Homo sapiens: one gene and its partners. The protein of the gene in region 1 purifies or fractionates together with the protein of each later gene. This does not show direct contact. Each region holds a gene or a part of one and is shown in the gene's direction. Other genes may lie near its edges.

Evidence for each region.
Region 2: the proteins of SH3PXD2A (region 1) and SYDE1 purify together in Homo sapiens (affinity purification with mass spectrometry, with the first as the bait; one large-scale study listed by BioGRID). This does not show direct contact.
Region 3: the proteins of SH3PXD2A (region 1) and TESK2 purify together in Homo sapiens (affinity purification with mass spectrometry, with the first as the bait; one large-scale study listed by BioGRID). This does not show direct contact.
Region 4: the proteins of SH3PXD2A (region 1) and KIF13B purify together in Homo sapiens (affinity purification with mass spectrometry, with the first as the bait; one large-scale study listed by BioGRID). This does not show direct contact.
Region 5: the proteins of SH3PXD2A (region 1) and FAM53C purify together in Homo sapiens (affinity purification with mass spectrometry, with the first as the bait; one large-scale study listed by BioGRID). This does not show direct contact.
Region 6: the proteins of SH3PXD2A (region 1) and MAST3 purify together in Homo sapiens (affinity purification with mass spectrometry, with the first as the bait; one large-scale study listed by BioGRID). This does not show direct contact.
Region 7: the proteins of SH3PXD2A (region 1) and MAP3K21 purify together in Homo sapiens (affinity purification with mass spectrometry, with the first as the bait; one large-scale study listed by BioGRID). This does not show direct contact.

The regions. Positions count from the first base shown.
Region 1 is NC_000010.11:103,603,777-103,608,259, reverse strand, and holds part of SH3PXD2A (SH3 and PX domain-containing protein 2A), read left to right. Parts: intron 1-2,342; coding exon 2,343-2,462; intron 2,463-4,470; coding exon 4,471-4,483. UniProt on the Homo sapiens protein: Adapter protein involved in invadopodia and podosome formation, extracellular matrix degradation and invasiveness of some cancer cells. Binds matrix metalloproteinases (ADAMs), NADPH oxidases (NOXs) and phosphoinositides.
Region 2 is NC_000019.10:15,112,646-15,116,165, forward strand, and holds the end of SYDE1 (rho GTPase-activating protein SYDE1), read left to right. Parts: intron 1-914; coding exon 915-1,318; 3' UTR 1,319-2,329; downstream 2,330-3,520. Other genes in the region: HACL2 (2-hydroxyacyl-CoA lyase 2), read right to left, coding at 2,607-2,785, 2,921-3,026, 3,205-3,276, 3,356-3,426, 3,507-3,520. UniProt on the Homo sapiens protein: GTPase activator for the Rho-type GTPases. As a GCM1 downstream effector, it is involved in placental development and positively regulates trophoblast cells migration.
Region 3 is NC_000001.11:45,342,871-45,346,244, reverse strand, and holds the end of TESK2 (dual specificity testis-specific protein kinase 2), read left to right. Parts: intron 1-250; coding exon 251-368; intron 369-686; coding exon 687-1,405; 3' UTR 1,406-2,362; downstream 2,363-3,374. Other genes in the region: TOE1 (target of EGR1 protein 1), read right to left, coding at 2,543-3,163, 3,243-3,374. UniProt on the Homo sapiens protein: Dual specificity protein kinase activity catalyzing autophosphorylation and phosphorylation of exogenous substrates on both serine/threonine and tyrosine residues. Phosphorylates cofilin at 'Ser-3'. May play an important role in spermatogenesis.
Region 4 is NC_000008.11:29,252,488-29,256,970, reverse strand, and holds part of KIF13B (kinesin-like protein KIF13B), read left to right. Parts: intron 1-4,483. UniProt on the Homo sapiens protein: Involved in reorganization of the cortical cytoskeleton. Regulates axon formation by promoting the formation of extra axons. May be functionally important for the intracellular trafficking of MAGUKs and associated protein complexes.
Region 5 is NC_000005.10:138,340,510-138,344,992, forward strand, and holds part of FAM53C (protein FAM53C), read left to right. Parts: intron 1-674; 5' UTR 675-707; coding exon of another isoform or gene 708-755; 5' UTR 756-826; coding exon 827-904; intron 905-1,299; coding exon 1,300-1,357; intron 1,358-4,315; coding exon 4,316-4,483.
Region 6 is NC_000019.10:18,124,767-18,129,249, forward strand, and holds part of MAST3 (microtubule-associated serine/threonine-protein kinase 3), read left to right. Parts: coding exon 1-8; intron 9-3,633; coding exon 3,634-3,692; intron 3,693-4,099; coding exon 4,100-4,185; intron 4,186-4,483.
Region 7 is NC_000001.11:233,379,463-233,383,407, forward strand, and holds part of MAP3K21 (mitogen-activated protein kinase kinase kinase 21), read left to right. Parts: coding exon 1-248; intron 249-2,842; coding exon 2,843-3,249; 3' UTR 3,250-3,945. UniProt on the Homo sapiens protein: Negative regulator of TLR4 signaling. Does not activate JNK1/MAPK8 pathway, p38/MAPK14, nor ERK2/MAPK1 pathways.

The DNA.
Region 1 (4,483 bases):
TCTCTCCCGGCTTCCGGGACTCCGGAAGCCTGACTCCAGGCTTCACGTGGTGTTCTCCCTGCTGGTGGGTCTGCCTCTGTCCTGTGTTCTTTTTTTTTTTTTTTTTTTTAAATTGATCATTCTTGGGTGTTTCTCGCAGAGGGGGATTTGGCAGGGTCATAGGACAATAGTGGAGGGAAGGTCAGCAGACAAACAAGTGAACAAAGGTCTCTGGTTTTTCTAGGCAGAGGACCCCGAGGCCTTCCGCAGTGTTTGTGTCCCTGGGTACTTGAGATTAGGGAGTGGTGATGACTCTTAACGAGCATGCTGCCTTCAAGCATCTGTTTAACAAAGCACATCTTGCACCGACCTCAATCCATTTAACCCTGAGTGGACACAGCACATGTTTCAGAGAGCACAGGGTTGGGGGTAAGGTCACAGATCAACAGGATCCCAAGGCAGAAGAATTTTTCTTAGTACAGAACAAAATGAAAAGTCTCCCATGTCTACTTCTTTCTACACAGACGCGGCAACCATCCGATTTCTCAATCTTTTCCCCACCTTTCCCCCCTTTCTATTCCACAAAACCGCCATTGTCATCATGGCCCGTTCTCAATGAGCTGTTGGGTACACCTCCCAGACGGGGTGGTGGCCGGGCAGAGGGGCTCCTCACTGCCCAGTAGGGGCGGCCGGGCAGAGGCGCCCCTCACCTCCCGGACGGGGCGGCTGGCCGGGCAGGGGGCTGACCCCCCCACCTCCCTCCCGGACGGGGCGGCTGGCCGGGCAGAGGGGCTCCTCACCTCCCAGTAGGGGCGGCTGGGCAGAGGCGCCCCTCACCTCCCGGACAGGGCGGCTGGCCTGGCGGGGGCTGACCCCCACCTCCCTCCCGGACGGGGTGGCTGCTGGGCGGAGACGCTCCTCACTTCCCAGACGGGGCAGCTGCCGGTCGGAGGGGCTCCTCACTTCTCAGACGGGGCGGCTGCCGGGCGGAGGGGCTCCTCACTTCTCAGACGGGGCGGTTGCCAGGCGGAGAGTCTCCTCACTTCCCAGACGGGGCGGCTGGGCAGAGAGGCTCCTCACCTCCCAGACGGGGTCGCGGCCGGGGAGAGGCGCTCCTCACATCCCAGACGGGGCGGCAGGGCAGAGGCACTCCCCACATCTCAGACGATGGGCGGCTGGGCAGAGACGCTCCTCACTTCCTAGATGGGATGGCGGCCGGGAAGAGGCGCTCCTCACTTCCTAGATGGGATGGCGGCCGGGCAGAGACGCTCCTCACTTTCCAGACTGAGCAGCCAGGCAGAGGGGCTCCTCACATCCCAGACGATGGGCGGCCAGGCAGAGACGCTCCTCACTTCCCAGACGGGGTGGCGGCCGGGCAGAGGCTGCACTCTCCGCACTTTGGGAGGCCAAGGCAGGCGGCTGGGAGGTGGAGGTTGTAGGGAGCCGAGATCACGCCGCTGCACTCCAGCCTGGGCACCATTGAGCACTGAGTGAACGAGACTCCGTCTGCAATCCCGGCACCTCGGGAGGCCGAGGCTGGCGGATCACTCGCGGTTAGGAGCTGGAGACCAGCCCGGCCAACACAGCGAAACCCCGTCTCCACCAAAAAAACACGAAAACCAGTCAGGCATGGCGGCGCGCGCCTGCAATCGCAGGCACTCGGCAGGCTGAGGCAGGAGAATCAGGCAGGGAGGTTGCAGTGAGCAGAGATGGCAGCAGTACAGTCCAGCTTCGGCTCGGCATCCGAGGGAGACCGTGGAAAGAGAGGGAGAGGGAGACCGTGGGGAGAGGGAGAGGGAAGGGGAGGGGGAGGGGGAGAGCTTTTTTTTTTTTTTTTTTTTTTTTTTTAGCAAATTCTTCCAGATCCTGAGAGAGCCCATCTCTACCAAAAAAAAAAAAAAAAATTAACCAGGTGTGGTGGTGTGTGCCTGTAGTCCCAGCTACTGGGGAGGCTGAAGTGGGAGGATCACTTGAGCCCAGGAGATGGAGGCTGCAGTGAGCTCTGATTACTCCACTGCACTCTAGCCTGGGTCCCAAAGCAAGACCCTATCTCAGAGTAATGATGATGATGATGATGATGATGATGATGATGATGATGATGATAGTAATAGTAATGTGAGAATTTTGATAGCTCAGACAAGTCTTCCGTGAGTCCTGAGTATTATTAGAAAGCCTCATCAGAGTAGTCCCCTGGCGATATATACCCTGAGACTCCCATGATAGATACGTACTCAGGCCAGCTGCTGTCCAGCTGGTGTAAACGGCCATCCGCACCCCCTGGGGACTGAGTGGGGACCAACCCTTGGCCAAGTTACTCTTCTGATTTAGGCGGGTTTTGCCCACTGTGTGTTCCTTAACCTTAGGGGTTCCAACTGCCAAAGCCACCAGAGCCCCCTTCTGTTGAGGTGGAGTACTACACCATTGCCGAATTCCAGTCGTGCATTTCCGATGGCATCAGCTTTCGGGGTGGACAGAAGGCAGAGGTAAGCCTTGGGCCATGAGGCCGAGGGTTTTAACTCATTGTGGTGGAAAACCTACTGCATTTCCCATTTTAGGCCTTGCTAGTAAGATTCCTGAGGGGCAGGCAGGCAGGAAAGGTACAGAAATGAGCCCCACAAAGATGAGCATCTGCCTGGCGCTGGCCAGTGCCATGGCCTAAACTAGATCCCAGCTCTCACGCTCCACCCTGAGCTCACAGGGCTTGTCTCACAACATTTCCCAGAGCATGTGCAGGAGCTTGTGACAGGGGGGCCTTGAAACAAAGGGCTTCTTTGGTCAAATGAGCTTGCAGGACAGTGGATTAAACAAAATCCAACCCATTTGTTGTTTTAATTGCAGGGCTTCCCAGAGCCTAGGATACAAGGATGTCACTGGGAGTGTCACCTACAAGGGGTCTAGAATAGACAGCATTGCCCAACCCCACAAGCTTTCTCTCCCAGGAACATCTCAGGGCCAGGATCCTGCAGAAGCCACATCAGGAAGTGTTGTTAGGAGGATGTGGACCAGGCAGGTAGACTGAGATACTGGGGACCTGGGCTCTGGCCAAGTCCACACCACATGACCCCTGGCCTTTGATGCAGTCACTTCTCTCACCCGCCACCCCCAACTTTAAGCATTTCTCTCTGCAAAACAGGGTGATAGATCCTGGGACGCCCCTCCACCCCCCAGCATGTCTTCCAGCATTCATGCCACTCTATTTTGTGGCTGGGGCTGAGCATGGTATTCCCGGCAGCAGAGAAGAGCTGTAACTTAGTCAATTCTCTGAGTGGCTTTGTGTAGTAATTGAGTTAACTCCATCTAATACAAGTGAACCTGTCAGACTCATTGGGCAGTCTCTGCCTCTAAAGCAGTGACATTCCCAATGTGAATGTTTTAAATCACATGCCTGGAACTTGCAACTAAATTTCCAAGAAAAATCATTCTCTCTGTACTGAGGTTTCCAGGAGAGTCTGTAAAGAGCATAATGTGGCAGAACTGTCAGGCTCAGGAGCCACCTGTGCTTGAACTGTAGGTACAGGGCTGGGGCAGGGTGAAGGACAGAATGTAGGACCCAAAGAAGGAGAAAATCTTTCTCTTCTAGTGGGGGATGCAGAGGACTGGTCTCTTCTTGCCTTTGCATTCTTCACCTTTCCCTCCCTCCTTGGCCCTCTTCCCATAGTGCCAGTGTTTTCACGCTACCCCTTCCCCACCCCAGGACCTTTTCCTCCAGGAGTGTCCCACAATCCCCAGTTATCTGCCCTTTATGTTCCCCAGTCCAAATGGACCCCAGCACAACCAGCAGCCACACTTTTGGCCATTGGTTGATCTCCAGAAGTTAAGGAAGAAGCTCCTTAAACCAGTTTATACTAACATGGAAATGACTGAAAGCCCCCTGCCCTTCCTACAGGAAACCAATCAACCCAAAGAAATCTCTTCAGCTAGTGGGATTTCAGTGGGATTCCAGTAAGATGACCACAGCGGGTGGATCCTGGGGAAAGGCTCTGCAGAGAGGCTCTGGCCTCGGGCCTGTACCTCCCAGGTCACTTCATCTGCATCTTCCCATACTCTTCTGACCCTAGAGACCCTTTCAAGGAACTCAAAGGGAGGACCTAGCAACATCGAGGGTACGAGGAGGGAAGGGGCAGCAGAAGGGCAGTGTTTTCTTCATACGTGTCCTTAGTCTACTGGCAGGATTGTAGGGACTGGGAACAGTGCAGTTTAGGGGGAGGCAGAGTGGGCCAGCTCAACCCGGCTGTTAACACAGACATGGAGGATCAGGGAGGGAACTTGGCAAGTGGGAACCCACCAACCATGAGATGATAGAGACCTAGGTTTGAATTCTGGTGCATTATTTACTATATTGGGTTTTGGGCCACTTACTCAGTGGCTCGGTTTATTATCTGTAAAATGGAGATAATTTATCCCAGAGCCAAAGTATGATACTCCTACCTTGGGATGTCATAGGGTTCCAGATCCTCCCAACTCACTGGCTTGTCTGCACTCGTACCCCAGGTCATTGATAAGA
Region 2 (3,520 bases), on another chromosome or scaffold:
CAGTGTCTTAGGCTTGAAGCTACGCCCCCTCATGGAGTAAACTGGTACCTGGTTGCCTCAGCAACCAGTTCAGATCCAACCAATCTGTCTGTTTTGTCTTTTTTTATTTTCATTTTTTTGTAAAGACAGGGTTTCTCTATATTGCCCAAGCTGGTCTCAAACGCATGATCTCAAGCCATCCTTCCGCCTCAGCCTCCCAAAGTACTGGGATTATAAACCAAATCACCTTGCCCCACAGAGCTGATTCATCTTTTTATTTTTATTTTTTATTTTTTTTGAGATGGAGTCTTGCTCTCTAGCCCAGGCTGGGGTGTGGTGGCATGATCTCAGCTCACTGCAACCTCTGCCTCCCAGGTTCAAGGGATTCTCCCACCTCAGCCTCCCGAGTAGCTGGGATTATAGGCACGCACCACCAGTCCTGGCTAATTTTTATATTTTAAGTAGAGCAGGGTTTCACTGTGTTGGCCAGGCTGGTCTTGAACTCCTGACCTCAAGTGATCCACCCATTTCAGGCCTCTCAAAGTGCTGGGATTACAGGCATGCACTACCAATCCTAGCTAATTTTTGTATTTTTAGTGGAGATGGGGCTTCACGGTGTTGGCCAGGCTGGTCTTGAACTCCTGACCTCAAGTGATCCGCCTGCCTCAGGCCTCCCAAAGTGCTGGGATTACAGGCATGATCCAGGCATGATCCACAGACCTGCCCCTACCCATCTTTGATGCAGTCAGAGGCCCTGCCTCTTGACATGCCAATCAGAGGCCTAGTTGCGTAAGCAACCAGTCCTAGCTCTGCCAGTGAAAACCTGAAAGGGTCGAAGGCCGCTTTCCACAGGCCAATCAGGAGCCTAGTTCCCTAAGCAGCCAATCAGAGGTCGGCTGTCGCCTCTTTCTATGACCTACCCTGTCTCCCTTCAGATCCCCGCCTGCCCCGACAATCTCCAGATGTCGCGCCTTACTTGCGACCCAAACGACAGCCACCTCTGCACCTGCCGCTGGCAGACCCCGAAGTGGTGACTCGGCCCCGCGGTCGAGGAGGCCCCGAAAGCCCCCCGAGCAACCGCTACGCCGGCGACTGGAGCGTTTGCGGGCGGGACTTCCTGCCCTGTGGGCGGGATTTCCTGTCCGGGCCAGACTACGACCACGTGACGGGCAGTGACAGCGAGGACGAGGACGAGGAGGTCGGCGAGCCGAGGGTCACCGGTGACTTCGAAGACGACTTCGATGCGCCCTTCAACCCGCACCTGAATCTCAAAGACTTCGACGCCCTCATCCTGGATCTGGAGAGAGAGCTCTCCAAGCAAATCAACGTGTGCCTCTGAGCCAGATGACGGGGTGGGACCCCGGTTAGTAAGGACCGGGCGCCCAGTGGCTAAGGCGGTGCCCTGGTGACCAAGGAGAGCCAGACCTGTTGCTCAGGCCGAGCTCCTGGTTGCCAGCGAGTTACCACGGGACCAGTCGCGTGTATGGCTGAGACTCATTCCCAGTTTCCAGGGCCCGGTATTTGGACACTAGTTGCCAAGTCTGGGGCCTGGGGATTTTAGGGACCAGCGGTTGTGACCATCTTTCCTGAGCACCAAGGGCTTCCCCTTTTGTTGCCAAAAAGGTAGTTCTCGCGCTTGCTAGGCTGGCCTCTCTTGCCTCCCCTTGGCCGGGGCAACACCAGTTACTGTGAGCATCACCCTGGTGTGGTGAGTCACCTCTAGTCGGCCCTCTTGCTGCTGCCAACCAAATCAGTATTAGCTTTGAGCACTGCACTGTTTCTCCCTCCCTTGGACGACACAAAGACTAGCATGAGGCACTGTTTGTGGGGGGCAGCCCCTATCCTGGGTTCCAGCATGGACACAGGGGTAGCCTGGGGCTTATAGAGAAACAGCTGGTTTCCCCTACCCTTTTCCGGGGAAGTCCCCACGATTGGCCTCTAGTCAGCAAATGGAGATAACAGAGTCTGGCCTTTCCAATCCCCATCTCCTTGCCCCCCCCTTGCCCCCCCCCCCGAAAAAAATTGAGCACTTAAACCCCTCCCTTTTGGAGGGGGCCCCCTGAAGCGTCAGGCTGGGGGCAGTCTGGTACGGAACATATTTATTGCCTCCATGCATGTGTGTGTGTGTCTGTGAGGACTGGTGTGCGTGGACACGTCTGAAGCAGGCGTGTGGGGCTCTTTCAGGGACCACAGAGGAGGGAGCAGTTTGCAGTGCCCAGCCACCCTGAAATCCCCAATAATGGTGCCTCAGTGGGCCCCAGAGTTCCAGTGGGAGAGTACGGTTCCCTCCTGTCTCCCTCTTCTTTTCCGCACCTCCATCTTTGTGGATAATAAATAAATATGCACAGGTTCTGAGACTGAGTACTTGGGCCTACATGGGCCAGAGGTGGTTTATTCAGTCTCCATAAGAGAGGGGACAAACGGCACAGTTGGGTCCGTGAAGAGGAGGGTCCAAGAGCTCACAAGAGAGCCTCTCTGAGATTTGACCCCTCCATCCCCTCCTCAGGGAGGTTGTGGAGTCACTGGGCCTCATGGGATAGGCCCAGGGCAAGCAATGATGAGACTCCAAACCAGCTGGACACAGTCCAGGGGCAGGAAGGCAGCCAAGCGTCCTGACCCACAAGGCCCTATACAGCAATGGAGCCATCGCGGAAGTCCGTCCTCCCAATGAGGATGTTGACCACAACCGGGTGGCCGTCTCGGCACTGCTGCTGGGCATCGTGCAGCACCTTGACCACCTGATCCTCGTTCTCCCGTGAGAGCAGCAAGCCCCGGGCCCCCAGACCCATGGCTGCCTTGTGATAATCTAAAAGAAGAGATTAAGTCGGATAGTGGCAAGGACTCAGCCCACCGCACATGCAGCCAGCCCAGGAGAGGAACACAAGCCCAGCTGGGACTGAAACAGCCTCCTGTCCTCCCAACCTCGCTGAGGCCCCCTCACCAGTGTAGGCCAGGCCACAGGCCACGTTGCTGCCCAGAGAGGGCACCTGCTCCCGAGAAATCTGTGTCCAGCCAGCATCATTCCCTACCAAGGCCATCACTGGGATCTACAGGAAGATGATGAAGGCAGGCCGCAGCCTTCAGCCCCATGGCTTGGCCAGCCAGAGGACAGAGACAGGGATAGGGCCTCTGCCAGAGAGGAGGCTCCCTCCCCACCTCAGCCCACCCCTGGTGACATCTCCCAGAACCCCAGGCCCTAAGCTTCCCTCAGGCCAGCCCAGTCACCTTGTGTCTGACGAATGTATCAAATTCGATGAGGCTGTAGCCAAAAGCTCCGTCCCCAAACAGGCACCAGACCTAGTCGGGAGGGGACCCAGGATGGTTAGGGTGGATCAGGACCTAGAGAGCAGCAAGTCTCCCAACTCCAGTGCCTCACCTCAGCATCTGGCCGGCACAGCTTGGCCCCAAGTGCAAATCCTGCACCAACTCCCAGAGTCCCAAAGGCCCCTAAGAGGACCAAGAGCAGGTGGGTGTGAAGGCGTCCTGATGGATGGTGCCCACTGCCCCAGGCGGGGGCCCTTCCTTACCAGGATCGAGCCAG
Region 3 (3,374 bases), on another chromosome or scaffold:
AACTAATATGAGCATACTTTTGGAAGGTTCTGTGACAAGGTGATAAGACAAACACTAAGACAGGGAGGGTAGTAGACAGTAGTGTTTTCCCTGACCTGAACTGTAGGGATCACCTTCATTGTCTGGGGCCTTTAGAAAAGGTCTCTCAGCTGCACATCTGAATCTTCAAAGATGCCAGAAATAGACTCAAATGCCATCTTTGGGGTGGGAGATGGAGGGCAGAGCTCATGGCTGTTGTGGATACCTACAGATGGATCCCAAACTGCGCCCATCTTTTGTGGAGATTGGGAAGACCCTGGAGGAAATTCTGAGCCGCCTACAGGAAGAAGAGCAGGAGAGGGATAGGAAGCTGCAGCCCACAGCCAGGGGTAAGAGATTAGACCAGGGAGCCCAACCTAACCCTAAGGGAGGAAATTCGGATGTGGGGCCTTCTCCTCTTAGGGTTGTGATTGCCAGGATCCCAGGTCCAGAAACAAATGGGAGGGGAAGGAGATGATGCAGAAAGTACTGGCCTTTTTAAGAGCTGTGGCTTGGCATACTGCTTCCCCTCTCTGAGTCTGTTTCTTCATTGGTAAAACAGGGCCATGGTATCAGCTTTGCTTTCATGAGTGAAAACATTCTGTGGTAAAATGCTGCTTGTATTTGTTATGACTAGTGAGAGTAACCCAGACTTGATTATTCTTCAGGACTCTTGGAGAAAGCACCTGGGGTGAAGCGACTAAGCTCACTGGATGACAAGATCCCCCACAAGTCACCATGCCCAAGACGTACCATCTGGCTGTCTCGAAGCCAGTCAGATATCTTTTCCCGTAAGCCCCCACGTACAGTGAGTGTCTTGGACCCATACTACCGGCCACGAGATGGTGCTGCCCGCACCCCCAAAGTCAACCCTTTTAGTGCTCGCCAGGACCTCATGGGGGGCAAGATCAAGTTTTTTGACCTGCCCAGCAAGTCTGTCATCTCTCTGGTATTTGACCTGGATGCACCAGGGCCCGGAACTATGCCCCTGGCTGACTGGCAGGAGCCCCTGGCCCCACCTATTCGCCGGTGGCGTTCCTTGCCTGGTTCGCCTGAGTTCTTGCATCAAGAGGCTTGTCCATTTGTGGGCCGGGAAGAATCGCTATCTGATGGGCCCCCACCACGCCTAAGTAGTCTCAAGTACAGAGTTAAAGAGATCCCACCATTCCGGGCATCTGCCCTACCAGCTGCTCAAGCCCATGAGGCTATGGACTGCTCCATTCTCCAGGAAGAAAATGGTTTTGGGTCCAGGCCCCAGGGGACCAGTCCATGCCCTGCGGGTGCTTCTGAGGAGATGGAGGTAGAAGAAAGGCCAGCAGGCTCAACTCCAGCCACCTTCTCCACCTCAGGCATAGGCCTGCAAACCCAGGGAAAGCAGGATGGGTGAGGGGGTTTAGTCCCTGCCTCACCTTGGGGATGGACCTTCAGCTGAAACCATATGGCCCCCTAGGTGCACAGCCTTGATTCTTCCCTGGAGCCTACAGAGCAGGCAGGCTAGGCCAAGCCAGGCTCAACTTCTGGGCTCCCAGTGCCCATTGGCTGTGTATGACGGGAGGCAGCAGTGAGAGGCCTTCCTAGTTAGGGCCAACAGCTGATACCAAGCCTCTGAAATCCAGCAAGGAGGTCTGCCTCCCACCAGACCCTCTCCAGTGTACTTCCCCAGATAGGACCAGAGGATGTCTAGTTCTAGGCTGAGCTGGCAGGCAGCTATTACCCCGGTTCTTTCCCCACCCCAGGTCTGTCTCTTGCCTTTTCTTGGGGCATATAAGCTACTGAGTGGAACATGGAGCTGATCAAGAGGCCGTAATGGTCATGGCTGTTTCCCAGACCTGAATATTGGGGTGCTTCTTGCCAGTATTCTAAGACATTTGAGTAATTGCTGTTTGCACTTACTGCATGGTCAGACCACGTCACTACATTTCTATGCAAGGGGACAGCAAGGCAGCGTGGTGGTCATGGCTCTTAGCTAACCTATTCAAAGACCTTTTCCTGTTGATTAATCTATTTTCATATTTATAAAGGAGTCTTAATGTTCTGCCCCATAAGACTTTCAACCTTGTGGTTGGGAGTGGGGCTGGTTTTGTAGGCCCTAGGGCCTGCTTCTATGTATTTATCAACATGTGATACATTCAATTGGTTAAATGGTTTATACAGGGACTGATTTGCTTCCCTTCCTGCCATGGCTGGAGCTTTGGGAACAGTCTGTCCTTACAGAGCTGCAATAAGAAATAACCAAAGATGAAGCTGGTCAAATATTTTCATAACTTGCTTCTGTTGATTTTTTTTTTTGTAAAACTTTCCCAAGACATTTTCAGACTTAAAAATAAAGTCAGTGTTACAGGTGCTGGTCAGCCTTCTTACTTGTACCTCAAACACTGGGATAAAGGAGGCGGTCCAGGGCAATGCAGTGATGTCTGTCAAGACATTCCCCCTCCCCTAAACTCAGTAGCAGTTGAGGATGACATTTCAGGCTAGAGAGACCCAAAATACCTCTGTTCCACCTGAGAGCAAGGTGGAAGTTGCATCAGCTACTGCCCCAAGTGAGCTTCATCTTCTGATTGTGGGCTTTGGAGGAACGAGAGAACTGGCTCTTGGCCACTGTGAGGGGTACAGCTTTGCCACTCAAATATACCTTATTGTGGCATTCAGGGAGCCAGGGTCCAGAGCTGCAGGGCTGCGGTCCCTGGCTCACTTCCACATAGGCCATCACATAACCTGTCATAAAGGCATCAAAACCAGCCCGGTGCAATCCATCCCCAGGCACTGGGTTAGGACTGGCTTGGCTCCCTGGCACTTCTGAGGTAGCTCTATCAGCTATTTCAGGCCTTGCTGCCTTAATCCCCATCTCTAAGTCATTTTTGTTGCCTTGCTTGGAGTGAGGCAGGTTCCTAGTTTCATCGGCAGCCACCTCCTGCTCGGTTTCTTCAGGCTTGATGCTATCCCCACAGACCTGCTTCTTGGGAGGACCATCCTTAGCTTCCCCAGAGGTCTGTGTCCCCGGTAGGTTCAATAAAGCCCTCTTCCGTTTTTCCCTACGTCGTCGCCGTCGCCGCTTGTCCTCTGCCGCAGCCTCATCAGTGTCAATGATAAGGTCAATATCGTGAGACTGAGGACACTGTGGTCCCAGGGGGCACCAGCCATAAGCCTAGGGGTGGGAAAGAGGCTTAGAAAGAGGCTCCAGGCATCAGAACCTTCCCTCCCAAGAAACAGGTGGGTGCTCTCACCGAGAAGTTGTCACAGATGCTGGTGGGATGAGGACGGTGGGTTGCTGGGGGCAGGCAGCAGCGGTAATCAATATGGTCCCTCATGCTGGAAGGATAGTTGCAGAACTCCAGGGTAAGGTGTGGGCTGCCAGC
Region 4 (4,483 bases), on another chromosome or scaffold:
CCAGACTGGCCAACATGGTGAAACCCTGTCTCTACTAAAAATACAGAAACTAGCTGGGTGTGGTGGTGAGTGCCTGTAATCCCAGCTACTCAGGAGGCTGAGGTGGGATAATCGCTTCAACCTGGAAGGCGGAGGTTGCAGTGAGCTGAAATCGCACCACTGCACTCTAGCCTGGGCGACAGAGCGAGACTGTCTCAAAACAAACAAACAAACAAACAAAAAAAGTAGTAATTGTAGCATTTCTATGTAGCAGAACCTCAGAGAGGTTAATTAACATTCCCAGAATTACAAAACCCACCTGTGCTTTTACTACAATGTTGGACATGATTATCTTTAAGAGGATCTTGCTATCCTGAGATGACACCATTTTCAAAGATGTGCAGGATAAACTGGAAGCATAAGTCTTGATCTTCCATCAAAGGAGCTCCCAGTCTTGTTGATAATAAGATGCACATGTGAGTTCATTGGAAGAATATATGTACCTAGTGCACTGATGGCAGCCAATCATGAATTAAAGAAATGGGGGTGGAATTTGAGAACAGCACAGAAGACAGCACAAGCAGGCCCCTTGGCTCCAAGTTCCACCGGGGTGACGTGGAGGAATCCAGATGGGTGCTGCACATACAGTGGGTTTGTGTCGGCATCTGAGGATCACTGAACTTGGGGAATCCGCTGCAAAGTCTCTGATTTAGATGACTAGGTGAATGCTGGTGTCATTAACTGAATCAGAAGCACAGGAGAAGCAGGTTTTAGGGTGGAGGTGTGGGAAATGATGAGTTCTAGTCTCAGTCAACAGTGTGTCGTCAGTGCTTATGTGCTGTGTACCCTGCCTGCAACTATGAATAAGATGCAGTGTGTGCCTGGAAGCAACTCAGCACAATTGAGTTTTAGGTGTCTGAAGTGCAGCCAGGTGGATGGATCCAGAAGGCCATTGTGAATATGAGTCTGAAACGAAGGGACTGGACGTAGGTGTAGATTTCGGAGTCATTACTGTAGGTAGAAGATAGAGCACCTCAGGTGTGTCTGTGACAGAGGCGGTCACAGAGGCCAAGAAGAGCAACCTCAGGAGAATCAGGTGAAAGCAATGTTGTGGATGCCTAGGGAGGAAAAATGTGTCAAAAGAGTGAAAGGTGAAAGCAATCACATGTCACAGGAATGGCCGCGTGATTAACACAGAATTGTGTTCAGTGGATTTGGCATTATGATGGTCAGTGTTCATTTTCAGGATAATTTCACTGAAACGAATTAATTGGTATTGGGCATTGGCAGTGGGCTGAGGAGTGAGTGGGCGTGCCAGTATGGAGGCAGCGAGTCTCAAGAACATTCCTCTGAGAAACTCCAGGTAGAAGGGGAGGGTTCAGAGTGGTACCTGGAGGGGTAGGTACCTTTTTTTAAAAAAAAAAGTTTTGGGGAGATATTTGAACCTTGTATAGATAGAGCCAATAGATAGAAGTTTTTGAAATATGGGAGGAAGAGAATAATTATATAATGGGAAAGCCCAGGAATTTCAAGCTTAATTTTCTTGATGGGGTAGAATGTGAGGTTATTGAAAGTAGGAGGAATTGGGTGAGCTGGGGTCTTCTGAGTAGTGAATGTGTAGGAATGTGGTTGAAGGACCCTAACTGTATTTTCTATCTATTGAGGGTACTGGGGTCATCCATTCCGAGTTTTTTCTTCTTGGTTTTTAGATATAAGTCACATCCCCAAAGTGTACCATTCACTGGGTTTTAGTTTACTCACAGACTTGTGCAGCCATTATTAGTATACAATTCCAGAACATTTTCATCACCCCACAGAGGAACCTTGTAACTGTTAGCAGTCAGTCTCCATTTCCCACTTCCCAGCCCCTGGCAACCACTAATCTACTTCCTGACTCTATGGATTTGCTTATTCTGGACATTTAATACATGGAATCCTATATTATGTGGACTTTTGTATCTCACTTCTTTCACTTGGTATAATGTATTCAGGGCTCATCCATGTTTTGTCATGAATCAATACTTCATTCTTTTTATAGCTGAACAACATTCTGTTACACAGATATGCTGTGTTTTGTATTCATTCATCAATTGATGGGCATTTGGCTTGTTTCCAATTTTTGGCTATTATGAATGATGCTCCTTTGAACATTTATGTACAGGCTTTTGTGTAGACATGTGTTTTCATTTTTCTCAGATACGCATATGTATAGGAGTGGAATTTCTGAGTCATATAGTAACTAACTTTTGAGGAACTGTTTTCCAAAGCATATGAACCATTTTACATTCCCATAGAAATGCATGAAGGTTCCACTTTCTCCACATCCTCACCAACACTTGTTCTTGTCTCTCTCCATGAGTATTGCTATCCTAGTGGGTATGAGGTGGTATCTGATTGTGGTTTAGATTTGCCTTTCTCTGGTAGATAATGTTGAGCGTCTTTTCATGTGCATATTGGCCGTTTGTATAGCTTGAGAGAGATCTCTATTCACATCTTCCCCTTATTTCAAAAACTATATCTTTTTATTACTGAGTTGTAAGACTTCTTCATACATTCTGTATACCATTCTGTTATCAAATAGATGATTTGCAAATATTTTGATTTTATGGGTTTCTTTTTCACTCCCTTGTGTCCTTTGATGCATGAAAGTTTTAAATTTTGATGAAGTCCAGTTTATTTTTAGTTGCTTGTGATTTTGCTGTGATTTCTGAGAAACCATTATCTAACATCATGTGGATTTTCATTTGTTTTCTTCTAAGAGTTTGATAGGTTTAGCTCTTACATTTAGATCTTTGATCCAGTTGGAGTTTTGAATGTGGTATGAGGTAGGGATCCAACTTCATTCTTTGGCATGTGGATATCCAGTTGTTCTAGAACCATTTGATGAAAAGACTGTTCTTTCTCCATTAGATTGTCTTGGTACCCTTGTCAAAATCAATTGACCATAACTGTGACAGTATGTTTCTGGACTCCCAATTCCATTCCATCAATGTATATATGTCTTTCCTTATGTAAGTACCACACTGTCTTGATTACTCTACCTTTGTATTAAGTTTCGAAACTGGGAGTCAAGTCCTCTGACTTTGTTTTTCTTTTTCAAGATTGTTTTGGCTATTCTAGTTCTGCCTTAAGCGGGTTTTTTTTTTTTTTTTTTTTTTTTTTTGAGACAGTCTCACTCTTCTCACCCAGGCTGGAGTGTAATGTCGTAATCTTGGCTCACTGCAGCCTCTGCCTCCCAGATTCAAGCAGTTCTCCTTTCTCAGCCTCCTGAGTTTCTGGGATTACAGGTGCCTGCCACCCTGCCTGGCTAATTTTTGTATTTTTGGTAGAGATAGGGTTTCACCATGTTGGCCAGGTGCCTTATGAGTTTTTTAAATACCTGTTTCTTAGTCTTCTGAGGTTGATTGGTTTCTTTTTTAAACTGTTTATTTGTTTAGAGATGGAGTCTCATTCTGTTGCCCAGGCTGAAGTGCAGTGGTGTGATCATAGCTCACTATGACCTTGACCTCCTGGGCTCAAGATGTCTTCCCACCTCAGCCTCCCAAAGTGCTAGGATTACAGGCATGAGCCACTGCACCCAGCTGATTCATTTCTTGAGTATGAACATTTTATGTTTTTGGTCACATAGGATTATTTTATTTGTTTTCAGATATGGGGTCTTGCTCTGTTGCCCAGGCTGGAGTGTAGTAGCACAATCATAGCTCATCACAGCCTGTAACTCATGGGCTCAAATGATCCTTCCATCTCAGCCTCCTGAGAAGCTGGGCTACAGGTGCATGCCACTACACCTGGCTAATTATTTTTTTTAAATTTGTTTTAGGGACAGGTTCTTGCTGTGTTGCTCAGGCTAGTCTTGAACTCCTGGCCTCAAGTGATCCCCCTGCTTCAGACTCCCAAGTAGCTGGGGGATTATTTTAATTATTTTCACACTATCACATCTCCTCTCCTAACCTGGCATCTCATTCTTGTGTTAGCCATGTTAGAGCTCAGTTGTATTTTAATCTTTTATTTATTTAATACATTTTCATGTTTACTAGTAACAATATAAAAGTAGTGATTAGGTTATTTTATATATCTCTTTTTAGAAAATAAAGACCAATTTGCTTTTTACTTATATGGTATCACATAATTTTTTTTCTCCCAGGGTCAGCAGATCTCAATAAAAAAGGGGGTCCCAAGTAACTTATAAATAGAACAAAGTAGTATAGGTAGTGTTTCCTGCTATGCCATTAAATATTATATTCCAATTGGGAAAACAAGTCCTTCCTACATAAATATCATTGATGAATATTTTATGTATGAACATGTGTAGACATGGAAAAGTATTGGGTATGTGACACTAATTGGTTGAAAATAGGATCACATGTGGCATGCAAAGTTTGCGGTTGAATAAGTAAATCTTACAAATAGCTTATTATCTATCTTTAAAAAATGAACCCAAATGAATTTAAGAGTAAATTATAGTTAGATATTTAGGAACATGACTGGTAGATAAAGGGAGGTA
Region 5 (4,483 bases), on another chromosome or scaffold:
TATCCATGGACTTTGCATCAGATGAGGCTAAAAACTTAGTTGAACAGTCATGGAGTTGTTGTTTACGACGTCTGTAGAGTTGAAATGTATTGGAATTACCCTGACCATTTCTTTATCTTCCCATTTGATAAGAAAACAAACACTGTATCTATTGGAAAACAATAATATATCAGATGTTTAGGCTGTGGGAGGACATAAAATCCTATGTACTCAGGTCTAAAGCAGAAAGTCTTGCCTACAACCACTGTTCTTCCTTGTTCTCTTATTACTATTTCTGTAGTTTAGGAGAAGGGTACCTCTTTTCACTTCTGACTGGAAGATAAAATACTGGGCTGATCTTGATGGAAATAATCATTTGGGCATCCCTCTCTCTCACTTGAGCAGCTGTTTTCTAAGTGGTGCTGGTATTCCAGTTAGAAACAACAGAGCATGAACCAGTTTAAGGGTAGCAAATAAGTTTCAACTTGATTGCCAACTCTATTTTATTTCATATCTGGACTGCCAAGTTCATAATTTCTGAAGCTGTGTTTAGGCTTAGCTGGAAAGAGCTGTGATCAATTGATGTCTGCCAGAGGCCTGGCTTAGGGGTGCTGTGGTATGTGTGCCATGCATTTTCCATCTCTGGACCAGGTGCATCTCTAATATCACTTGGGGCTGGTCCCTCTAATTGGCAGACTCAGCAGGCATGACTGGAGAGGGAAGTCCCAATGGTGCTAGAATGGTGCTGCAGTGGCAGAAGACGGCTCACAAGTGAGGTCTGGAAGAACAACAGGGAAGACATCCATCATTTGCTCCAAAGTGTGCAAGTCAAATCCTGGGGAGAATCATGATAACCCTGATCACTGAGCAGCTACAGAAGCAGACTCTGGATGAGCTGAAATGCACACGCTTCAGCATCAGTCTGGTAAAAGACCAGTCTTCCTGCTTCTCCACGACCCCCTCCCCCTTTTTTCTGAGGCTGATTGTTGCTATTACTTTACTCTTGTCCTGTGCTGTATGAATCATGGTACTTAACCTGGAAGAGCCCACTAATGGCTCAAAACCCAGCCCAAAAGGAAGGGGGCAGGGATTTTTCCACCGATAGAGAAGGGACAGCAAAACTTGGGTGGAGAAGGGTTTGAGATGTTGGAAGATGTGGATTGTTTGACTTACTAACTTTGGGAAGACAAGAGGAAGAACACTTAATGTCCCTAACATCCCTGTAGCTCATGAATCGCAGAGGAGAACTGAAGAGGGCTTCCTAGAAATCTGTCAGTGTGTCCTGAATCCAAATCATGATGGATATTCTCTCTTTCTTAGCCTTTGCCTGATCATGCAGACATCTCCAACTGTGGGAACTCTTTCCAGCTTGTGTCTGGTAAGGCATCGTGTGTGTTTGTGTACGTGTGTGTACCCATTCCTCTCTCCACACATTTCTATCATTGGTTTCCAGTGACCAGGGCTAGCGAGCCTACCTCTAGAACCTTCTTGCCAGGGTCAACTTCTGAGATTGACAGTTGTCTTTCATGTTCTAGCATGAAAGTTATCTGGTTGGTTTGCTCTTATTCTAGCTTTGTGGGGACTTGTATAATCTAATTTTTTGAATAGGTAATACATTCACATGGTTCAAAATTTAAAAAATAACAACAAAAAGGTTATGCTGAGAAAAGTCTCTCTTACTCTCCCGTTCCCTATCTACCCAGCTTCTACCACCTCCCTAAAAGTATTAGTTTCTTATACAGTATATGTGACTAGAATTTCTTTATATAAAAAGAAGCAAATGTATATATTTATTTCCTTTCTTTTTTAAGTTCTCGGATACATGTGCAGAACGTGCAGGTTCGTTACATAGGTGTACATGTGCCATGGTGGTTAGCTGCATCTATTTTATTTCCACGTTTTTAACACAAAAGGTTGCATACTATATATTATTTTGTACCTTTAAAAAAAAAAATGGGACCGGGCCTAGTGGGTCACACCTATAATCCCAGCACTTTGGGAGGCCAAGGTGGGCAGATCACCTGAGGTCGGGAGTTCAAGACCAGCCTGACCAACATGGAGAAACCCCATCTCTACTAAAAATATAAAATTAGCCAGGCGTCGTGGCGCATGCCTGTAATCCCAGCTACTCGGGAGGCTGAGGCAGGAGAATCACTTGAACCCAGGAGGTAGAGGTTGCGGTGAGCCAAGATTGCGCCATTGCACTCTAGCCTGGGCAACAAGAGCAAAACTCTGTCTCAAAAAAAAAAAAAAATTGCTGGGCACAGTGGCTCATGCCTGTAATCCTAGCACTTTGGGAGGCCGAGGTGGGCGGATCATGAGGTCAGGAGTTCGAGACCAGCCTGGCCAACACAGTGAAACCCTGTCTCTACTAAAAATACAAAAATTAGCCTGGCATGGTGGTACACACCTGTAATCCCAGCTACTCGGGAGGGCAAGGCAGGAGAATCACTTGAACCCAGGAGGTGGAGGTTGTGGTGAGCCCAGATCATGCCACTGCACTCCAGCCTGCACAACAAAGCAAGACTCCATCTCAAAAAAAAAAAAAACAAAAAACAAAAAAAACTTTAATATAGCTAGGAGATCTTTCCCTATCAGAATGCTGAGTATTCATTCCCTTGTTATATATAGCTACATATTATTACACTGCATAGATGTACAGTGGCTTATTTAATGAGTTTTCTATTGATGTGCATTTAGGTTATTTCTAATCTTGTTTGGATACATAAAACTGTAGTGGGCCAGACGTGGTGACTCATGCCTGTAATCCCAGCACTTTGGGAGGCCGAGGTGGGCAGATAGCATGAAGCCAGGAGTTCGAGACCAGCCTGGCCAGCATGGTGAAACCCCGTCTCTATTAAAAATACAAAAATTAGCTGGGCATGGTGGCAGGCGCCTGTAATCCCAGCTACTCAGGAGGCTGAGGCAGGAGAATCCCTGGAATCCAGGAGGCGGAGGTTGCAGTGAGCCGAGATCGCACCCACTGCACTCCAGCTTGGGCAACAGAGCGAGATTCCATCTCAAAAAAAAAAAAAAGAAAGAAAAAAGAAACTGTAGTGAATAACCTTGTACATATGTCATTTTTTCACATGTGAAAATATATCTGAGGTATAAATTCGTAGATTATTAATTACTGAGTTAAAGGGCCCCTGATCGTAGGGACATTTAGATGGAGGCATCACTGGTGGACAATCAGAACTCCCTAACTCGTGCTGCTCAGCAGTTCTGCATCTCATTTTCTTTTCTGGGATACCTAGCAAGGGAAGTGAGTTGGCAAAAACATGTTCATTCAGTCTCTTCCTCCTGTTTATTAAAGACTTGCTGAAAGCCAGGTATTGTGTCATAAGTATAGAGCAGGAACTCATGGTCCCTGCCCTCATAGTGGTTAGTAGAGGGAAGAACTATAGACCAAATACACTCAGTATGAATTTTGCCACCATCAAGTCTGACTTCGTATACTTGTCGTTTGCCCCAAATATCCAGCCCCTGCAGAATTCCAGCCAGCTAGCCAGAGGAGTTTGGATTAGGCCCTTTGTCCCTTAATGAGCCGTCTCCCAAAAGTCACAATTTTGGTTGGAATACAGTGAGTGAGGATTGTTTCTTTTAGTCCATTTTCCCTTCCTTCTCTTGGTCCCTCCATCTGTTTGGATTTAAGAGAAGGCCTAGGGGAAGGGAATCGGAATATGTGGGTGGCCAGACAGAAACGAAGATGAGCAGCACAAAGTCAGGGTTTCCCAAGCCCAGGTTTCACTGTCAAAGGCCTTCCCCACCCTGTTTGCCCTCCCTAGGAATAAAAGTGATCTCTTACCTGCCTGATTACCTCTTACTTCTTGGCAGTCCTAACTCCTGACTTGGTGCTGTTGACACATGAGAGGAGGAAAGGCCGAGAAAGAAGAGCATAGGCCTGCTTTTCAGCATCCAGGGCAAGCGTGGGGGAGGGGCGAGGGAGAGATGAGCAGGACACTCACAAACGTGTTTGTTTCTCTTGACTTCTTTTACCTTTGAGAGGGAGTGGCAGGCAGTAGATGAAATGTTTTTGATTCCAGGTAGTTGGTCACAATGGAGGCAATAGAGCATAGTGGTTTAAAAACCTAGCCTTCGCATCAGACAGACCTGGATTTGAATCCTCCTTTGGTCTTTTGAGTGCTATGTGATTTTGGGAAAGTTATTGAATTTCTCTTATCTGTGAAATGGGGATAATGATAACGATACTACCTACCTCATAAGGTTTTTGGAAATTTTCACATAAAATGCTCCATACATTATGTGGCAAATGGTAAGTTCTTAAAAAATGTAAGCTATCATTAATATTATTCTTATTATAAATGCCTTCCAGAAGGTGCTTCCTGGAGGGGCCTGCCCCACTGTTCCTGTGCTGAGTTCCAGGACAGCCTCAACTTCAGCTACCATCCCTCAGGCCTGAGCCTGCACCTCAGACCACCCAGTCGGGGAAACTCCCCCAAGGAGCAGCCCTTCTCCCAAGTCCTAAGACCTGAGCCCCCAG
Region 6 (4,483 bases), on another chromosome or scaffold:
CCTGGAGGGTAAGCCGGGATGGGAAGAGGAAACCAAGGCTGGGAAAGGCCGGATGGAGGCCAGGCACGGTGGCTCACACCTTTAATACCAGCACTTTGGGAAGCTAAGGCGGGCAGATCACTTGAGGCCAGGAGTTCGAGACCAGCCTGGCCAACATGGTGGAAACCCCCCCCCTACTAAAAATACAAAAATTAGCTAAGTGTGGTGGCGCATGCCTGTAATCCCAGCTACTCAGGAGGCTGAGGCACAAGAATTGCTTGAACTCAGGAGATGGAGGTTGCAGTGAGCTGAGATCGCGCCACTGCACTCCAACCTGGGCGACAGAGCGAGACCCTGTCTCAAAAAAACAAAAAAAGAAAGGGCAGATGAAGCCAGGATTCAAACCCAGGCCCATCCGATTCCAGAACCACCGCACTGTTCTTTGTCTCTCTGTGGCCTTGCTCTTAGGTCACCTGTGGGAATTATGCTGAGACCCTCTGATCTTTTGGGGCCCAGGGGCCTCAGTGTCCTCAAATGCCACGTTAAGATGGTCAGGAAGCCTGGGGACCAGTGTTAGCAGTGGCCTTCCCTTTGTCCTGCAAATTCACAAATGACTTTACCAATTTCTGTGGCCTTTACTGTGGCCCAGAAAGTGAACTTGGAGTCAAACAGGACAACCCGTAGGTAAGAAGACGGTCAAAAACTCCCACAGCCGGCCGGGTGCGGTGGCTCACGCCTGTAATCCCAGCACTTTTGGGAGGCCGAGGTGGGTGGATCACAAGGTCAGGAGTTCAAGACCAGCCAGGACAACATGGTGAAACCCCATCTCTACTAAAGATACAAAAATTAGCCGGGTGTGGTGGCGTGTGCCTGTAATCCCAGCTACTCGGGAGGCTGAGGCAGGAGAATCATTTGAACCCTGGAGGCGGAGGTTGCAGTGAGCCGAGATCACACCACTTCATTCCAGCCTGGGCAACAGGGCAAGACTCTGTCTCAAAAAAAAAAACAAACAACTCCCACAGCCAGCCAGGTGCAGTGGCTCACGCCTGTAATCCCATAATCCCAGCACTTTGTGAGACTGAGGCGGGTGGATCACTTGAGGTCAGGAATTCAAGACTAGCCTGGCCAATATGCAGAAACTCCATCTCTACTAAAAACAAATATTAGCCGGGTGTGGTGGCATGTGCCTGTAGATCCCAGCTACTTGGGAGGCTGAGGCAGGAGAATCGCTTGAACTCAGGAGGCAGAGGTTGCAGTGAGCCGAGATCACGCCACTGTGCTCTAGCCTGGGTGAAAGAGTGAGCCTACATTTCAAAAAAAAAAAGATGTAGCTGGGTGTAGTAGTGCGCGCCTGTAGTCCCAGCTACTCAGGAGGCTAAGGTGGGAAGATCGCTTGAGCTTGGCAGGTTGAGACTGCAGTGAGCTATGATCACACCACTGTCCTCCAGCCTGGGTGACAAAGCCAGACCCTGTCTCAAAAAGAGAAAAAAAAAAATTTCCACAAATAGCCAGGATAAGAGGAACTGAAAGCTGGAGCATTGAACTTGGACCTAGCCTGGTCCAGCAGTAGCCAGGGGGAGGCTCTGGGAGGAGGCAGTGTTCAAACTGAGGCCTGGAGGGCAGGAGGTGACCAGGTTGCAGATCCAAAGGAAAGAGTGAAACAGGCAGCATAGGCATAGACCCTAAGGTTGGACCATACCTGGAGTGGGACTGACCTGCCACTGTCCCCATTGAAAGCTGGGGAGGCCCGGCATGGTAGCTCACACTTGTAATCCCAGCACTGTGGGAGGCCAAGGCAGGAGGATCACTTGAAGCCAGGAGTTTGAGACCAGCTTGGGCAACATACTGAGATCTCGTCTCTATTAAAAAAACAATTAGCCAGGCATGATCGCACATGCCTATAGTCCTAGCTACTTGCGGGGCTGAAGTGGGAAGACTGCTTGAGCCCAGGGGTTTGAGGCTGCAGTGAGCTATGGTCGCACAACTGCACTCCAGCCTGGGTGACATAGCAAGACCCCATCTCTACAAAAAGTAATTTTTTTTTTTCTTTTTTGAGACAGAGTCTCGCTCTCTCGCCCAGGCTGGAGTGCAGTGGCACGATCTTGGCTCACTGCAAGCTCCGCCTCCTGGGTTCACGCCATTCTCCTGCCTCAGCCTCCCGAGTAGCTGGGACTACAGGCGCCCGCCACCACGCCCGGCTAATTTTTTGTATTTTTAGTAGAGGCGGGGTTTCACTGTGTTAGCCAGGATGGTCTCGATCTCCTGACCTCATGATCCGCCCGCCTCTGCCTCCCAAAGTGCTGGGATTACAGGCGTGAGCCACCGCGCCTGGCCTACAAAAAGTATTTTTAAAAATTAGCCAGGCGTGGCGGTGAATGCCTGTAGTCCCACCTACTTGAGAGGCTGAGGTGGGAGGATTGCTTGAGTTTAGGAGACTGAAGCTGCAGTGAGCCATGATGGCACCACTGCACTCCAGCCTGGGTGACAGAGCAAGAGCCTGTCTCTGAAATAATCATACTTGGCCGGGTGCGGTGGCTCACGCCTGTAATCCCAGCACTTTGGGAGGCCAAGGCGGGCAGATCACCTGAGGTCAGGAGTTTGAGACGAGCCTGGCCAACATGGTGAAACCCTGTCTCTACTAAAAATACAAAAATTAGGCTGGGCGTAGTGGCTTATACCTGTAATCCCAGCACTTTGGGAGGCCGAGGCAGGCGGATTACCTGAGGTCAGGAGTTCAAGACCAGCCTGGCCAATGTGGTGAAACCCCATCTCTACTAAAAATACAAAAGTTAGCCAGGTGTGGTGGCAGGCGCCTGTAATCCCAGCCACTCGGGAGGCTGAGGCAGGAGAATCTCTTCAACTCAGGTGGTGGAGGTTGCAGTGAGCCAAGATCTCGCCACTGCACTCCAGCCTGGGCGACAGAGTGAGACTGCGTCTCAAAAAATAAAAATACAAATACAAAAATTAGCTGGGCATGGTGGCACACGCCTGTAATCCCGTCTACTTGGGAGGCTGAGACAGGAGAAGCACTTGAACCCAAGAGGTGGAGGTTGCAGTGAGCTGAGATCACACCACTGCACTCCAGCCTGGGTGACAGAGCGAGACTCCATGTCAAATAAATAAATTAAATAATCATACTAATAAAAAATAAAGCTGAGGAAACTGAGGCTCCAGGCAGATAAGGCTGAGCAGGGAATCAAACCCAGGTGTACCTAAGGCCAGATCACATGTGGTCTGTGGCTGGACCATGTTTGCCAGGCATTCGCTAGGGGCTGCCCCTCTGCCAAGGCCTGGGGCAAGAACATATTGGACCCTCCACCTGGGCTGCACCCTGAGCTGAGGAAGATGTTAGGAGCTGACACCCAGGGGGCCTGTGTCTCATCCCGTCTTCACAGGCTCAAGGCTCAGAGCCTAAGTTTGATCATGACTGAGCACTTCAGAGCCAGGGCAGCCCACTGGCCCTTCTAGAAGGTTCCTAAGTCATTGCTTCATCCAGCCTCCCGGATGTGGCTTCATGACAGTGTCATGAGAGCTGGTCAGGGGAGGCACTGCATCCCCAGCCTGGGGTGAGAACTCTAGAGGCCTCAGGAAATTGCTGGGTGATGCAGGGTGAGGCAGGGAGGCTCCAGCTGAGCCTCCTCCCTCATCTTGCAGAGATGGTGCCACTGAGTCACCTCGAAGAAGAACAGCCCCCAGCACCTGAGTCCCCAGAGGTGAGTAGCAGAGGCTGGGGGACCCCCGCTCATCTTGTTCTTTCCAGAGTGGACCAGGCACCCGCAGAAAGGGCTGGGTTTGCCGAGGTCTTGCATGTAGCTTAATTAGCATCGGTGACTTTGGAGGCAAGGTGACGGCACGTGGGACTGCCCTGCCTTGGAAGTCGGGTGGGGGCAGTGCTGGAGGGGCACTGGACAGGTGAGTTTTGCAGGACGTGTAAGAATTTCCCAGGAGGAGGGCACAGCTGTGAGCAAAAAAGTACAGAAAGTCAGAAGCTGAGTTGGAGAAGTTTGGACAGGGGAGGAGGTAGCATCGGGCACCAGGACCAGTGGTTTGGGCTTGGGGGCAGGAGAAGCCTTCCCAGCTCTGCAGCGGGGCAGGACCCTAAGCCCTTCCCATCCCCTAGAGCCGCGCCCTGGTCGGCCAGTCACGGAGGAAGCCATGCGAAAGCGACTTTGAGACCATCAAACTCATTAGCAACGGAGCCTATGGGTGAGTCCCTGAGTCCTGCATAGACCCATTTCACAGATGCCTGAGGGGATGGTTGAGGCCCAGGCAGCTCCTGCATCCCCCTCCTACCCCAGCAGGGCTCACACATTCATCCTTGAATGGGCAGAGAAGGCACCTGAGGACTGGAGGGGGAAGTGGAGACACGCCATAGCGAGGTTACAGCCTCATGTGTGCTCTGTCCACGAGCCAGGCCTTTACCTGCCCCAGGTGTAGGGCGTTCTAGGGGCTTGGGGGCTGATCAAGGAAATAGATGCCCACCCAGTGGGAGTAGCACGCAGTG
Region 7 (3,945 bases), on another chromosome or scaffold:
TCCACTGGTGGACAGTGCACCTGTCACTTGTGACTCTGAGATGCTCACTCCGGATTTTTGTCCCACTGCCCCAGGAAGTGGTCGTGAGCCAGCCCTCATGCCAAGACTTGACACTGATTGTAGTGTATCAAGAAACTTGCCGTCTTCCTTCCTACAGCAGACATGTGGGAATGTACCTTACTGTGCTTCTTCAAAACATAGACCGTCACATCACAGACGGACCATGTCTGATGGAAATCCGACCCCAAGTAGGTTGCATTAATTAGGTAAAAGCATAAAACACTGCTGTAGAGATTAGTATGTGAAACAGTATGGATTTATGATTTTATCTTTTCCTGGTGATGACATTTAATAATTTGTTTTTACTGTTCATGTAGATCTTTGAACCTTACCCTTCTCTTATTTGATTTTAACTATGATTTGGATTCTGGGAAAAGTGTAATTGAATTTCAGTAACTGAAACCTATAATAGCATATCAAAGCAGAAAGAACACATGGAGAATAACCACCCAGCCCCCTCACGTTACGGGAAAGACAAGCCAGCTGCCCCAGTTAGAACCACGGATGAGTGGGAGGGCTGGAACTGAAACTGGCCTCTCGCCTCCCTGCGGGCCTTGTCTCCTCCACTGCTGTACATGTCATTGTTCTGTTTCTGTTGGGACTGTGTGTAGCAGGTGATCAGCCTGCTAGGGCTGCCATAACAGAGTGCCACAGCATGGAGAGATGTTCAGCACAAACTCATTGTCCAGCAGTTCCAGAGGCTGGAAGTCAGATCAAGGTGTCTGAAGGGTTGGTTCCTTCTGAGCTCAGCCTGGCTCCTTGACTTCTAGACGGCCGTTTTCTCCCTGTGTTCTCACACAGTCTTCACTCTGAGTGCATCTGTGTCCTAATCATCTGTGTCCTAATCTCTTTTTAGGACATCAGTCACATTGGATTAGGGCCCACCCTAATGACCTCATTTTACCTTAATCACCTCTGTACAGACCCTATTCCACATACAGTGACATCTGAGGGACAGAGGGTTAGGGCTTCTGCTTAGGAATTTTGTGGGGACACAGTTCACCCCATGACAGCAAGTATTACCCTGTTGATGTATGTTATACCAGACAGTTCCATGAGGTTTATGTCCAGATGTGGAATCTCTGAAAGAAAAGAAAATCAAATTTTTAAATAGTTTTTTAGTCTATTCAACAAGAGGGGCTTGGGCAGAAGGCAACCAGTGGTATTTCCACAGCACTTTATAGATGTTAAAGCACTTGGACATAAATTGTCTCTTAGTTTTTATGGCAACTCTATTATATGCAAGAGAATTCAAACTTACGGAAAATTAATGTTATTCAAGGTCACACAATTAGGAAGTAGTGGTGTCAGAATTTAAACCCGGGATCCTTCTGCTGTATCACAGTGTCTCACTCCTCCTCACTGCGGTATTTTTTCCATTCCTAAAATTCAGTGAGTATTGATGTGACTGGATCATGCTATCATGTGCTAGAATGTACTCAGCTTTGAGATTTCTGGGGTTAAGTGGCACTGAAATACTGACATTTGAGGAGATAATATGGGTACTTTGGAAGAATGGGGGATTTTGAGTCATAGAACAAAGGTTCAAGTTCTAGTTGTACTATTTGGTAAGTTTGTGATGCTGGGGAAATTACGTAGACTGCTTTCTTGTTTGAATGTCTTAAAAAGCATTGTAGTGTCATGGTTAATAGTATGGAAGCTAGCTGGGCTCATATCTCTGCTTATATGCTGAGTGAATTTGGGCGAATCACTTAAACATTTTGTGCCTCAGTTTCTTCATCTATAAAATGGGGACAGTAACAATATACATACCTAATACTATACTTACCTAATCTGTACAATTGAGATCGTGGTAAAAGTCAGATGGCACACTAAGTGCTCTGTAGAGCTTGAGTATTATTTATTTTGTATGTGAACATAATTGCAATAACCTTATATACCTGTCATGAATATTAAGTGAGGTAATATATACAAAAAATGCTTTCTAAATTGTAAAATGCTATGCTAGCATTGGTTATAAAGCTATATTAAGACAAACTGCTTTCATCCTTTTTATCTTTTCCTTTACTTCTTTTTAAATATTATATCTGGATATGATATTTTCTATATTATTGTTCATTGCCTTTAGATAAATTGGTTTATTATCTTTCTGTAGGTCAATAAGTATTGGTAATTTATAATTGCACAAGGAGAAATTCTAGCACAGTAATCCCATATGAAAGCATATTTTTCTCTAACTTATAAGCCAATAATTATTTGCTAAAGTGGTAATAACATTATTCAGTTCTTCAGTACAAACAAGAAAAGAGGTGACGTGTAAAAGTCTAACTGCTTTTCCATTTTCATCAGTTTTGTCAAATCATAATCTACAGTGAAGTTTAATCATGTTGACCATCATTTTTAAACCTCTTAAATTTATTCCAGTCTAGTCCATTTTGAAAGCTACCGTTATAATATCATTATAATGACTCATAATTTTTATTGGCCTAAGCACTGTGAGGATTATTTAGCTCTGTTTACAAATATAATTTCCATAGGTTGAAGTACTCTTTGCAAACTTGCAGGACTTCAGCCAGGTGTGGTGGCACATGCCTGTGGTCCCAGCTACTCTAGAGGCTAAGGCAGAGTTCCTTGGTCCTTAAGGCCAAGAGTTCGAGGCTGCAGTGTGCTATGATCATGCCTGTGAATGCATGTTTTTTGTTGAAGCTCATTTTAAAGCTATCACTTTGTTGAATTGCCATCATAATTATTTTTCTTGATATTCATTGTTTTAGAACTCATTTTCTTTCTAACTGCATACTGTTTTGGCTTTCTCAACCAGCTGGTGCAACTATTATCTCAGCCACTGGAGCCTCTGCACTGCCACTCTGCCCCTCACCTGCTCCTCACAGTCATCTGCCAAGGGAGGTCTCACCCAAGAAGCACAGCACTGTCCACATCGTGCCTCAGCGTCGCCCTGCCTCCCTGAGAAGCCGCTCAGATCTGCCTCAGGCTTACCCACAGACAGCAGTGTCTCAGCTGGCACAGACTGCCTGTGTAGTGGGTCGCCCAGGACCACATCCCACCCAATTCCTCGCTGCCAAGGAGAGAACTAAATCCCATGTGCCTTCATTACTGGATGCTGACGTGGAAGGTCAGAGCAGGGACTACACTGTGCCACTGTGCAGAATGAGGAGCAAAACCAGCCGGCCATCTATATATGAACTGGAGAAAGAATTCCTGTCTTAAACTAAGTGCCTTACTGTTGTTTAAGCATTTTTTTAAGGTGAACAAATGAACACAATGTATCTACCTTTGAACTGTTTCATGCTGCTGTGTTTTCAAAAGCTGTGGCCATGTTCCTAAATTAGTAAGATATATCCAGCTTCTCAAAAAATGTATATGATTGCTGTTAGCCATGTCTATTGTTTTTCCTCTGGATTCTTTTCTTATAACTTGGAATACACAAAAGTGTAAAACAAGAGATGTGCACCAATGAAAACTATGCTGGGTCGAATTACCTTCAGCACAATGTTAATGTTTTTGTTCTCATTTATGCCTTTGTCCATTTGCACACAACAGAAATTGTAATGAGCTTCACTATTTTTGTTTCTTTCCTTCCTTTTTTTTCTTTTTTCCTTTCTTTCCTTTTTCTTGTCTTGTTTCTTGTTTTTTTTTCTTGTAGTTTCTTTTCTTAATTGTCATTTTTGCAACAAAAAGCCAAGAAAGAGCTTTAGTTTCTTGGCAAGAATAATGTGATATTAGTAAGTAAAGGTCTTAAAAGTCTGACGACTGGAATAGATATAAAGTCCTGTTTAAACTACCTAACCTTGGCTGTGGGCCGATAATGCATATGTCCAGTTCTCACTTAAATTATGCAATGATATTTCTCTCTGAGGAAATTATACGGAATGTAACTTATAAAAGCTTTACTGAATATAAGTT